Linked DNA regions of Homo sapiens. The protein of the gene in region 3 interacts with the protein of the main gene of each other region in a pairwise test. Each region holds a gene or a part of one and is shown on either strand. Other genes may lie near its edges.

Region 1 (3,746 bases), on a different chromosome or scaffold from region 3:
GTGGGGTGCAGACTCCCGGGGGGACCTCGTCACAGGCCCTGCTGGAGGGCTTGGCGCGCTTCCCCCAAGTCTGGGCCTGACTCCACCCTGGAGCTCAACTGGACTCCCTGCTTAGGGGGATGCAAGGCTGGGTCTGGGGTCTCTCTGAGTGGTCCCCCTGAGCACTGCCCCTGCCAGGGGCTGGCTCCTGCCTGGCGTGTCCCCAGGGGACCCCAGGCTTCTAGCTGTAGCCTGGAGAATGCCCAACTCTATGGTCAGCTGTGCAGGCCTCACCCAAGGCTAAGGTCTTGGACACCCGTCTCTCACAGCTCCACACACACACTCTCTCACAGCTCCACACACTCACACTCAAACTCACTCCAGCCAGGGCTGCTATCCATCCCCCTCACAGCACGGCCGCCCTGGAGCACATGCGGCCCTGCACAGCCGATCAGATCAGCGGAGGAAACCCTTGAAAATCCTTTAGGGCAGGCCCCTGGCAGCAGCTGCCAGCAAAATCACCCTCACGCCCCTCCCCTGCGTGGGGCCCAGGAGCCAGGCTAGGGGCTCAGCGCTCCATCCAGGACGGCACAATGGGGCTGTGTCTGGGACCAAAGCAGAGAGCAGACCGGAGGCAGCAAGGCCTCTGTCCGCCGTGCCGCCACCAGTACCTCATTTCGGGTGCCCCAGGCAGAGGCTTGCTGCTTGGCTGGGGCCAGAGAATCCTTGGGGGCCAGGCTAGGCGCCCCCCGGGATCAGCTGCTGGGACCCCTATCAGGGAGGTCACCAGGTTTTAGGGATGTCCAGAGGACAATAGTGTCCCTCGCTCTGGGGAGCCAGGCCTGCCTCTGACGGCTGCCACCCATTCGCAAGCCCCTGCCTGGACCTCACGCTCGTGTGGCTCTGCCTGAGGCCTGGTACCACCCAGCCTTGCTTGGGGCTCCAGGCACCTGCCCGGCTGGGCCCAGGGCAGCCCCTGGGGGGACATTGGGAGTCACCAGGCAGGCATGCCACCTGGGGCAGGGCCACCCTGTCATCCCCAAAGGCGTGGGGCACAGAGCCCAGTCACTGGGATCACCCAGGAATGTGCCCGGAGAGTAGATGCCTTTTCAGGCAGGTACACACCCACCTGGCTGGCTCCCTTCCAACCCAGCTGGATCCCACTGGGCTCGTGGAGGGCTGGTGAGGGGCAGAGCCCCATCCAGAGCAGCCAGGTCTCTTTGGCCATGATGCCCCTGAGTGCCCCGGGCATGGCAGGGCCAGGCTTGGGAGGGAAGCACCCCACGGTGCCCCTGCCAGGTGCCAGGGGAGTGAGGCTGGAGAAGCTGCCCACCCCGCCTCCAGCCCCCCGGCCCCCCACCCCCTTCCCCTTGGCTTGGGGGAAAGAGGGCTTCAGGGGACGCCCACGCGGGCACACGCCGGGCTGGGCTCGGCCTGGAGGGAGGGGCGCGTCCTCAGCCACGCTGCGCGCCCGCGAGAGCTGCCTTTGTTCCCAACTGCAGCCTCCCCCGCGTCCCGACCCGGCCCGGTCCGGTCCCAGCCCCGGCCCCGGCCCCGGCCCCGGCCCGTCCTACCTGGAGTAGAGGCGCCTGGCGGCCGGGCCCGGGAGCTCGTCGGCCGCGGGCGGGGCCGGGCCCGCCATGGGTCGGGGACGCGGGAGCGGGAGCCGGGAGCGCCCCCCGCGCCGTGGCCGTCCGCCCCCTGCCCGCCCTGCTGTCCTCCCTGCTGTCCGCCCTGCTGTCCGCCTGTCCGTCCGCGCCTCGTTCGCCCGTCCTCCCCCGGGGAGGCGCCGAGGAAGTGATGTGCGCGGGGCGCCGCCGCCCCTCCCGCCGCCGTGGCCGTGATGTCACCGCCGCCCGCGCGGGGAGGGGGCGCGGACCGGGCGGCCACCGCCGCGTGCCTCCCTCTGCGGGGGGCGGGGCGGACGCGGGGGGAGGGGCGCCGTGAGGCGGGCAGTCCCCGGGGAGGGGGGAGGGGGGAGGGGGTGTGGGCCCCAGCCCACCCCACCCCAGGGAATGCAGGGGAGAGGGCCTGGGCCTGGCCTTGCTGCTGGTCCCCTGGGGACTTCTGAGGGCCCGCGGGGGTCCCTGGGTCACAGTGCAGCCACACTGGCCTCTGGGCTCCTTTCATCCACAGGCCGCCTGGTGAGCCCCGCAGCCTCACCCACGTGGGGAGGGGCTGCTGAGGCCTCCTTGCCTTTCTTGGTGGGCGCCCTACGCCTCGGGGGTCCTACCCTCCTCTTCTGTGCAGCCCCAACGTGGCTTTGCCCCCTTCTCCAAACTTCTGCCTTGGGCCATGGGGCGCAGGCCGTGGGGATGCTGTCTGCCTGCTTTAGAGAAACCTGGGGCACCGATGACAAATACAGGCTCTGCTTGGCCTGTGGGACGGTTGGTAAGCCCCCCACCTCTGAGACCCTGGGTGGCCACATTCCCCTCCCAAGCTCCCCCGGAATGGGGATGCAGCCTGCCCCTTCCTTCCTCCTGGGCACTGTGCAGGCTTAGGGAGGATGCAGGTGGCACAGTAGGCTGTGCCCACCCGGGGTCCCGGGACCCCAGCCCCTACCGCCTCCTCCTCCTCCTCTGAATTCTTGGAGCCCTGTGGGCCTATGTGGTGTGACGTGGCTTCCCCTCCACCCACCCTCAGCTCCCGATGGCTTGGGGGGTTCTCCGCAGCCAGCGAGGCCCACAGCCGGCCTCCCCGGGTTCTGTCCTGCCCCCGACAGCATCCTGGGCCTTCCGGTGGTGTCAGGAGACTCCAGGCCCTTGAAAGGCAGCTGCGACCCCGGGTATGACTCGGAGAAGTCCAGGAGCAGGAAATGGGCTGCATTCCTTCGGGGCCCCTCCGTGCACCCCAGCCCCTCCCTGGGAGAGCTGCCCTGAGGTCAGGAAAGTGCCGTCCTGGCAAGACCCTCAGCAGCTGCCGCCCACAGGACAGTCAGCGTTTTCAAGCATGGGAAGGAAAATAAACACGAGGTTAAAAAGGGGTCTGTTGGCCCCGGGCTGGTTTGTTTTTCCTGTGTAAGGGAGGCAACGGGAATGAGAACCATCTGTGCCCTGAGCGCAGCGCAAGCTGCCTGCTGGGCCCACGTGCCCTCCCCCAAAGACCACAGAAGCCAGGCAGAGCCTTGCTCCCTTCCAGCCGGGGCCGTGGCTGCTGGCCGGCAGGGACAGTGGTGTTGGCTGGGGCACCACCCTCCTTTGCCACAGCCCTGGGCCTGGCTGCGGGCAGAGAACAGGCCTTCGATTGAAGCTCCAACCTTCCGGGCCACCTCCTTTGGGCTTCGGGCACCTGAGCCAGCATCCCATTGTAAGGGCAGGGGCTGCTGGGGGCCCTGCCTGTGCCAGGCCTCAGCTCAGCCCTCTTTCCCCAGGCGCTGCTGCCATCAGGAGGCCCACAGAGGGTCCACACCAACACTGTGAGCCCCTTGTGGGTCCCCTGGGTTAGTGGTGGGAGGCTGGTGAAGAGAAGTGGGGACAAAAGACATTGCACAAATGGTGGAGGGAGGGAGAGATTTGCAGCCTCGTAGCTGTCATTGCTGGGGGAGCTTCTCCTGGTCTCCTTCCTTGATGCAGAGAGCTGGGAGCTTGTGTCCCTGGGCCGGGAGAGCCCCAACATTATATCAGAACTTGTGGGGAAACCTGCACCCCCGAGGGCTCTGGCTTTGTTAGGCCGAGCTGGGCTATGAGGCTGTGTGACCTGGCACAAGTTGCTTTCCCTCTCTGAGCCTCGGTTCTGTCACCTGAGGGCTGCCCGTCCCGCAAGGTGTG
Region 2 (3,746 bases), on a different chromosome or scaffold from region 3:
TTACAAAGGGTTTAAACAGTTGCTTTGCCAGTCCTATGACTTTTCCAGCATCACTTACGGGGAGAGAGAATTCGAGGGAGGGACAGGAAAGGGCAGGCAGAGAGGAAAGGACTCCTCTAACAGCCCGGGACTTTGTATTCTGCAGCCAGAGGCCCAGTGGCCTCTGTAAACTGAGAGTGTAGGGAAGGTGGCAGTTAAGGTGAGAAGGGTTGCTGAGTCTAGTGATGAAAACCAGATACAACAAAGAGGATGGCAACAGCGAGTCCCAACTGGATTCTCACATACCATCACCTATAATACAAGTCCCAATAACATGCACAGCATGCAGGAGGTGGCTGCGTACCAAGGTAGACACTTTTTAAAATAAACCTTAATTAGTCCCTGGGACTCACTGAAACTAATTTTTAGAAGCAAATCATCTAGTCTGATTCTAACCTTGCCAGACATTTTAATATCTGGTGTTTTTAAAAAGGTATCCCAAGCTACCCTGCCTAAATCAAAACACACTTACTCCAAATTGCTTCTAATCAAGAGCTAGGGAGCTAAATTTTAAGGCTTTTACCTCAAACAAGGAGTACTGGCTTAGGCTGAAGCAGAAAGCTGAGTCCTGGACCTGCTCAGTTCCTGATGACAAACCAAGTGAACCTAGACAGAAGGTGGGTGAGGGAGGACTGGTAGGAGGCTGAGGCAATTCCTTGGTAGTTTGTCCTGAAACCCTACTGGAGAAGTCAGCATGAGGCACCTACTGAGAGAAGTGCCCAGAAACTGCTGACTGCATCTGTTAAGAGTTAACAGTAAAGAGGTAGAAGTGTGTTTCTGAATCAGAGTGGAAGCGTCTCAAGGGTCCCACAGTGGAGGTCCCTGAGCTACCTCCCTTCCGTGAGTGGGAAGAGTGAAGCCCATGAAGAACTGAGATGAAGCAAGGATGGGGTTCCTGGGCTCCAGGCAAGGGCTGTGCTCTCTGCAGCAGGGAGCCCCACGAGTCAGAAGAAAAGAACTAATCATTTGTTGCAAGAAACCTTGCCGGATACTAGCGGAAAACTGGAGGCGGGGGTGGGGGCACAGGAAAGTGGAAGTGATTTGATGGAGAGCAGAGAAGCCTATGCACAGTGGCCGAGTCCACTGTAAAGTGGAAGAGACAGAAGGGACATTGTGGATAAGGAAAATTTTGGTTTGGGACACAACAATGTACCCATAGATTAGGACTTAGCTATCTACCCATTCCTAACCTTCTGCAAACTCTTCTTCCAACAATTCCACAACTTCCCGGAAAAGGGACAGGTGGGAGGAAGACCAATGAGGGGCTCAGACTTCCTCCTTTGCTATCCACACCAACCCAGACTCTGCTTCCAAGACTAATAACAACAGCTCATGATGTTCAAGGTGGGGACTAGGGGATGGGGAGGTGACGGACGTGGGCATGCCTTTCATTTCTTCCCCTCTCCAGTTCAAGAGAAGGATGAGGGGGTCATAATGTACTTGGAGAAAAACAGAATTGCAGACCTGTGAGAAAACTGCTCCAATCCTCTTGCCTGTCTTCTGTGGATACCGCCGAGGCAGGCAGGAACAAATGCAGTCATGGAAGATGGCAGAGACTGAAGCAGTCCAAAGTCAGTTTATTTCCCCACGGGGGAAAAATGTGACCTCAAATGAAGAGAAGTCAGCAAGCCCCGACTCCACCTTGTAAACAGGACTCCAGTTAACACCAGGTACCAAATGGTTCAGGCTGGTGCCAACTGGAATGGACTGATGGGAATGGATTCACGGTGTGTAAACAGTGTTCACTGCAATCACTCTAAGGCTAACAGCTTGGCAAGGGAGGTGAAATGGTGTGTCTGAGGTGACTGTGTAAACGGTACCGTTGCTGGACAACACTGACTGAAAACGGAGGTGCTGGTACAGGAGGAATGGGTGGGCGAGAAATAAAGGCCTTCTCTCCTGCCCATTGGTTGGAAGCAGGCAATGGAGCCAAGTGACCTTCTACAGCAGGGCCTGACCAACTGACTGCTGTGGGGTCTGCAGGTTGGGACCAGAAGGTGGGCTTCTTGGGCAATTTCTCTAGAGGTCATCCAAGGTGAAACCCTCTGTGTCTCCAAGAGGCCTCCCCATTCTCCAAAGAGAAGGAGGTTCTGGCGCTTTGGAGAGGAAGAGGGCCAAGTGTGGCTCCCGATTCAGGTCAAAAAAATAAAAGTAAATAATACCTGAAGTCCTACGGTATGAGATCTTTTCACGGGGTTGGGGCTCAAGGCTCCTTCTGGAATCGATCCTAGAGCCTGAACCCCCAAACCAAGTGCTCCTGTATACAGACACTGGAATTTTTTTTTTTGAACCCAGCTCTGAAAGCTCAGCTGCCTTCATGGGGGACACAGACGGGGTGGGTACTAAGGCTCCATAACAGAGCCAAAAACTGAGCTGAGGGCCTCTGTGGGGGCTACTGGAATGCTTGATGGAAACGAGGCAGGGTGGTGCTACTCAGGCCAGACGTGAAGACAGGAGGCAAGGAGTGCAGAGGCCCAAAGTTCAGTGGTCCCCCAGCTCCTGGGGAATCTTGAGGCTGAGCTTGCAAAGTGGTAAGCAGGGGCTGTGCCTCAGCCTGGGAGTAGCCCATGACCAGGCCTCCTGTGGCCCCAGGTGGGTTACACGGGGGCAGGTTGAGTGGAAGAAAGCCCAGTAGGTGGGAGAAGTCCACATTAGCAGCGCAGAGGGCCTCAGAGAGGTTGGCGGGGCTCTTGGCAAGCAGTGCTTCATCTAGGAGGGCCGCAGCTGCCGCCGGCTGAGGTGAGGCGGGCTGGGGTTCAGCGGATGAGAGAGACAGGCTTCCAGGAAGCTCCGCCAGAAAACTATCCACCTCCACTTTGGGCAATTTGTCGGGCAAGTATGAGGTAGATCCAAGCTGGTATTTTGGAGGGAGCTGAGCTGGGGAAGAGATAGGTGAGGATTCCAGAGGGTAGCTCATACCCATGGGCAGCGTGTTGTGCACCAGGGAGTGTGGCACGCCCGTGCTGGGCATGGTAGGGATGTGGGCACCATACATGCCCATGGGCAACATGCCAGGGAAGGCCTTGGTCCCCATTACGTCCCGAGAGGCCATGCACAGCACAGGGCTCAGCTCTTCCTTCACACTGACTGTGGAGCTGCAGCTGAGTAGGCCTAACATGTCCACGGGCTCTGTCTTGATCTTGAGCAGCTCCTGCGAGTGGCTCTTCTTGACATGACGCGTCAGGTGGTCCTTACGGCCAAACCGCTGGGCACAGTACTGGCACAGGAAGTCCTTACGGCCTGTGTGCACCACTAGGTGCCGCCGTACATCCTTACGAGTATAGAACCGCCGGTCGCAGTGGTCACAGGGGTGCTTCTTCTCCTTGGCACCGCCTGCTACCCGGCGTGAGTGGGCCTTCAGGTGCTCTAGCAGGGCCTGGGTACTCTCAAAGGTCTGCAGGCACACCTTGCAGCTGAGGTCACCGCTGCTGGCAGCATGCATGGCCAGGTGGCGCCGGTAGCCCAGCTTCGTATTGTAATTCTTACCGCACTCAGAGCAGTGGAGGGCCTCTTTGTTAGGATCATGGGTCTGCAGATGGTTCCGCAGATGGTCCTTGCGGTGAAACATCTTATCACAGTACATACACTGGTGGGGTTTCTGGGCTGAGTGGGTGGCCATGTGCCTGGGGGTAGAGACAGGGGATAGGGGAGAAAGCAGAAAGAGGGGAGATCACAAGGGATGACTGGACAACCAAAGGTGTCCATTA
Region 3 (3,746 bases):
TGGGGGGCTGAGGTGGGTGGATCATCTGAGGTCAGTAGTTCGAGACCAGTATGGCCATCATGGCAAAACCCCATCTTTACTAAAAATGCAAAAATTAGCCGAGCGTGGTGGCGGGTGCCTGTAATCCCAGCTACAAGGGAGGCTGAGGCAGGAGAATCACTTGAACCTGGGAGGCAGAGGTTGCAGTGAACTGGGATTGCACCACTGCACTCCAGCCTGGGTGACAGAGCGAGACTCCGTCTCAAAAAAACAAAAATTAATGATATGTTGTTCACAAAAGACACACTTAAAATCTATCAGCAAGTTTGAAAATAATGGGATGGAGAGAAAGTTATACTCTGTGCTGTAGACTGAATGTCTGTTTCTGTTCCAGATTCATATTTGAAATCCTAATCCCCAATGTGATGCTATTAGTGTGTAGGGCCTTTGGGGCATAATTAGGTCATGAAGGTAGAACCTTCAGGAATGGGGTTAGTGCCCTTGCAGAAGAGGCCCCAGTGAGCTCCCTCACCTTTTTTTTTTACCATGAAGGGATAAAGATACACTTTCACTGTGTCACACAGTGAAAAGGCAGCAGTCTATGAGACAGAAGGTGGGCCTTCCCCAGGCACTGAATCTGCCCACACCTTGACCTAGGACTTCCCAGCCTTCAGGACTGTGAGTAATGGGTTTCCATTGTTTATAAGCTACCCAGTCTATGGGATTTTATTATAGCAGCCCAAATGGACTAAGACACTGTACAAATTTAAGCCCAAGGAAGACTGGAGGTAGCAATGTTAATATCATTAAAAGTGGAATTTCAGCTAAACGGCACTAATAAGGCTAAAGAAAGATAGCACATTTTAAATGTAGGGGTTTTTCCGCCCTCCCTTCTCTCTTTCCCTTTATGCTCATTTGTCTCTGGCTAGAGATTTGCCAGTTGGCTTCACCTAGCTTTGGAACAGCATTGCGGGCTCCTGCTCCCTGGGGAAAGACTGCATCCTTAACACCCCCTGGAAACCTGCCTTCCACTCCCAGCTTATCCCAATGTTTGTGCTCATATTTCACTGGTCACTACTATGTGTTTGCAGCAGAGGAAGCAAGAAAAGATGTAACCAGTTGCCCTCCTCTGCACTCTCTGTCACACTCATCACCTTCCTAAACAAATGTTCCCAAATGACCTTCGGCTGTTCCTCCCTTCCTCAATTGCTCTCTCATTTCATCCCTCTCACAAAATCCACCATCAAATCCACTTCCCTAGCGCCGCCACTGAGAACATTTCAAAGAATATCTTTTAAGCTCTGAAGTCAAGTTTCAAAGGCAGACTCAGGCAAGGTAGCATTGTTAGAATAAATGGGTGGTCAGTCATTTGGATGTAGGAGTCTATGTGTGAGGGTCTAAACACAAATTGAGGCTGGGCGCAGGGGCTCATGCCTGTAATCCCAACACTTTGGGAGGCTGAGGCTGGTGGGTTGCTTGAGCAAATAATAAAAATTTAAAAAATAAAACGGGGCTGGGTGCAGTGGCTCACGCCTCTAATCTCAGCACTTTGGGAGGCCACATGGGTGGATCACCTGAGGTCAGGAGTTTGAGACCAGCCTGGCCAACATGATGAAACCCCGTCTCTACTAAATATACAAAAATTCGCTGGGCGTGGTGGCGGGTGCCTGCAATCCCAGCTACTTGGGGGGCTGAGGGAGGAGAATCTCTTGAATCCTGGAGGCGGAGGTTGCAATGAGCTGTGATTGCACCACTGCACTCCAGCCTGGGTGACAGGGCGAGACTCCATCTCAAAAAAAAAAAAAAAGCAATGGGATGTGCACACACACAACTAAACAAATTGCATCACTTTATAATCACGTCTAAGATATCCGAGGAGGGAAAAGAAGAGGATTCTACGTCCTATTGCAATATCAAGGGAAACGGAGGCACCTGGAAATGCCTCTCTACCTGGAATTCTTGCCAGAAAGGGTCCACATTTCTTGCCTCTCACCCCATCTATGTGATGCAGCTCCAGCTCCGGGCAGAGGGAGACCTTCTGGGAGCTGCTGGGGGTGTTTGTGTCTGAGCAGCGGGAGCTGGTCTGCACCTCACTCAGCCCTTGTTCTCCATGAATCCTTGACAGGAGATGAATCCAAGGCTCACCTGTAAGATCCAGACAGGACAAATCTCCAGTCCGAGATGATGAACTTCTCCCGGATTTGGCCAGCGAATTTCCTGCCTGACTTGGCACAGTATATCTCTCCTTCCACACTCCGGATGGAAATGTTCTGTTGGAGGGAAAGTCAAGGTGTCACTTCCTAATTCTGTTTATAGAGATACATTTGGGCTTTAGGCTGGATGTTTATGTTCCCTTTACCCCCATTCTGTGTTGAAACCTAATCCCCAGGGTGACGGTACTAGAAGGTGGGGCCTTTGGGAGGAGATTAGGTCATGAAGATGGAGTGCTCATGAATGGGAGGAGTGCCTTATAAAGGAGGCCTAGAGATCTGCCTCACTCCTTCTGCCATGTGAGGACACAGCAAGAAGACAGCCATTTATAAGCCAGGAAGTGGGCTTCACCAGACGCCGAATCTGCCAGAACGTTGATCTTGGAGTTCCCAGCCTCTAGAACCATGAGGAATAAATTTCTGTTGTTATGAACCACCAGTCTATGGACTTCTGTTATAGCAGCTGTGATGGACTAAGACAATTTGTGCATGAAAATGTCTGGTAGAATGTTCATCAAGATGGAAATGTGTTATCTCTGGTTGGTGGGATTCTGGACCATATTAATATTTTCCCTGGGCTGAATTGTCTAAATTGTCTTCACTGTCCTGGCATCAGCTGGCAACAAAAAAAAAGGAAGGTGGTAGAATTCAAATAAGGCAGCAAATAAAAGAAAAGCAAGGGCCTAATGCCTATGGAGCCCCGAGTCTAGGCCCCCATGAGCCACAGGTGGCCTGGCAGTTACTTGGAGGCAAGCCCAGCCCTGCCTTGTAAGTGGCTTGACCTGAGTCCCTGACCCTAAGCTGTTCAGAGGGAAGGCTCGGTGCAGCCAGAGGAGGTGGTTTTGTGGAGGTAGCAATAGACCCTGTATTGTCTTAAGCAAAGGTGAGTCTGCAACCCTACCATGGCTCTATTTATCCCTTGTCTTCCCTGTAGCACCTGCTGCTCCCGCCGTACAGCTGGAAGGCTGGAGAAATGGAAGAGTGGGTAAAGTGTGGGAGTCTCAGGGTTAAGGCTGAGGGAGGTGGAATACTGTCTGGATTCCTCAAAAGACTGCTGGTGGCTTGGCAGGTCCTGGGAAGGGCAGTCCTGCCTCCAGCCGCTTCCCCTGGGCTTCTCCATAGCTCTGTGAGATCTTGAGAGGAGGGACACCATTGTCCTATGGTGAGCAGAGTACTGTCAGGTGTGGCCAGCATAGGCCATGAAAGCAAGGCCAGTTCTGACACTTCTGACCTGTTTCAATGGCCTCGTGCCAAGGAGGTATGATCTACGTCATGCCAAACAGACCAGCAGCCAGAGGTCCCAAGGCCTGTGGCAGCAGGAGGCAGCACTGAACTCAGCTGCATCTGTGCAGAGGGGAAGGGAGGGAGGGAGGAGGCTTCATTCTTATCTGGGAGGTTCTCCCAGAGGACAGAACCTCTCTTGCCTGAACTAGAGGAGACTGATCAAAAGAACTCTGAGGGCCACCAATCAGCTGTTCACCCAGGCCTACTCATGAAAGCTATGGGTGGTGTTCACATTTGAATTAGTTGTCCTCAAATTTATGTGATGAATCAAAC

What was found.
Region 1: the proteins of FAM83A (region 3) and GPSM1 interact in binary tests that used the Homo sapiens proteins (3 or more experiments, as listed by UniProt).
Region 2: the proteins of FAM83A (region 3) and PLAGL2 interact in binary tests that used the Homo sapiens proteins (3 or more experiments, as listed by UniProt).

What each region holds. Positions count from the first base shown.
Region 1 is NC_000009.12:136,325,571-136,329,316, reverse strand, and holds the start of GPSM1 (G-protein-signaling modulator 1), read right to left. Parts: upstream 1,779-3,746; 5' UTR 1,622-1,778; coding exon 1,554-1,621; intron 1-1,553. UniProt on the Homo sapiens protein: Guanine nucleotide dissociation inhibitor (GDI) which functions as a receptor-independent activator of heterotrimeric G-protein signaling.
Region 2 is NC_000020.11:32,194,021-32,197,766, forward strand, and holds part of PLAGL2 (zinc finger protein PLAGL2), read right to left. Parts: intron 3,663-3,746; coding exon 2,432-3,662; 3' UTR 1-2,431. UniProt on the Homo sapiens protein: Shows weak transcriptional activatory activity.
Region 3 is NC_000008.11:123,192,527-123,196,272, reverse strand, and holds part of FAM83A (protein FAM83A), read right to left. Parts: intron 2,250-3,746; coding exon 2,125-2,249; intron 1-2,124. UniProt on the Homo sapiens protein: Involved in mitochondrial maintenance during adipogenesis. May be acting by playing a role in the maintenance of normal mitochondrial function.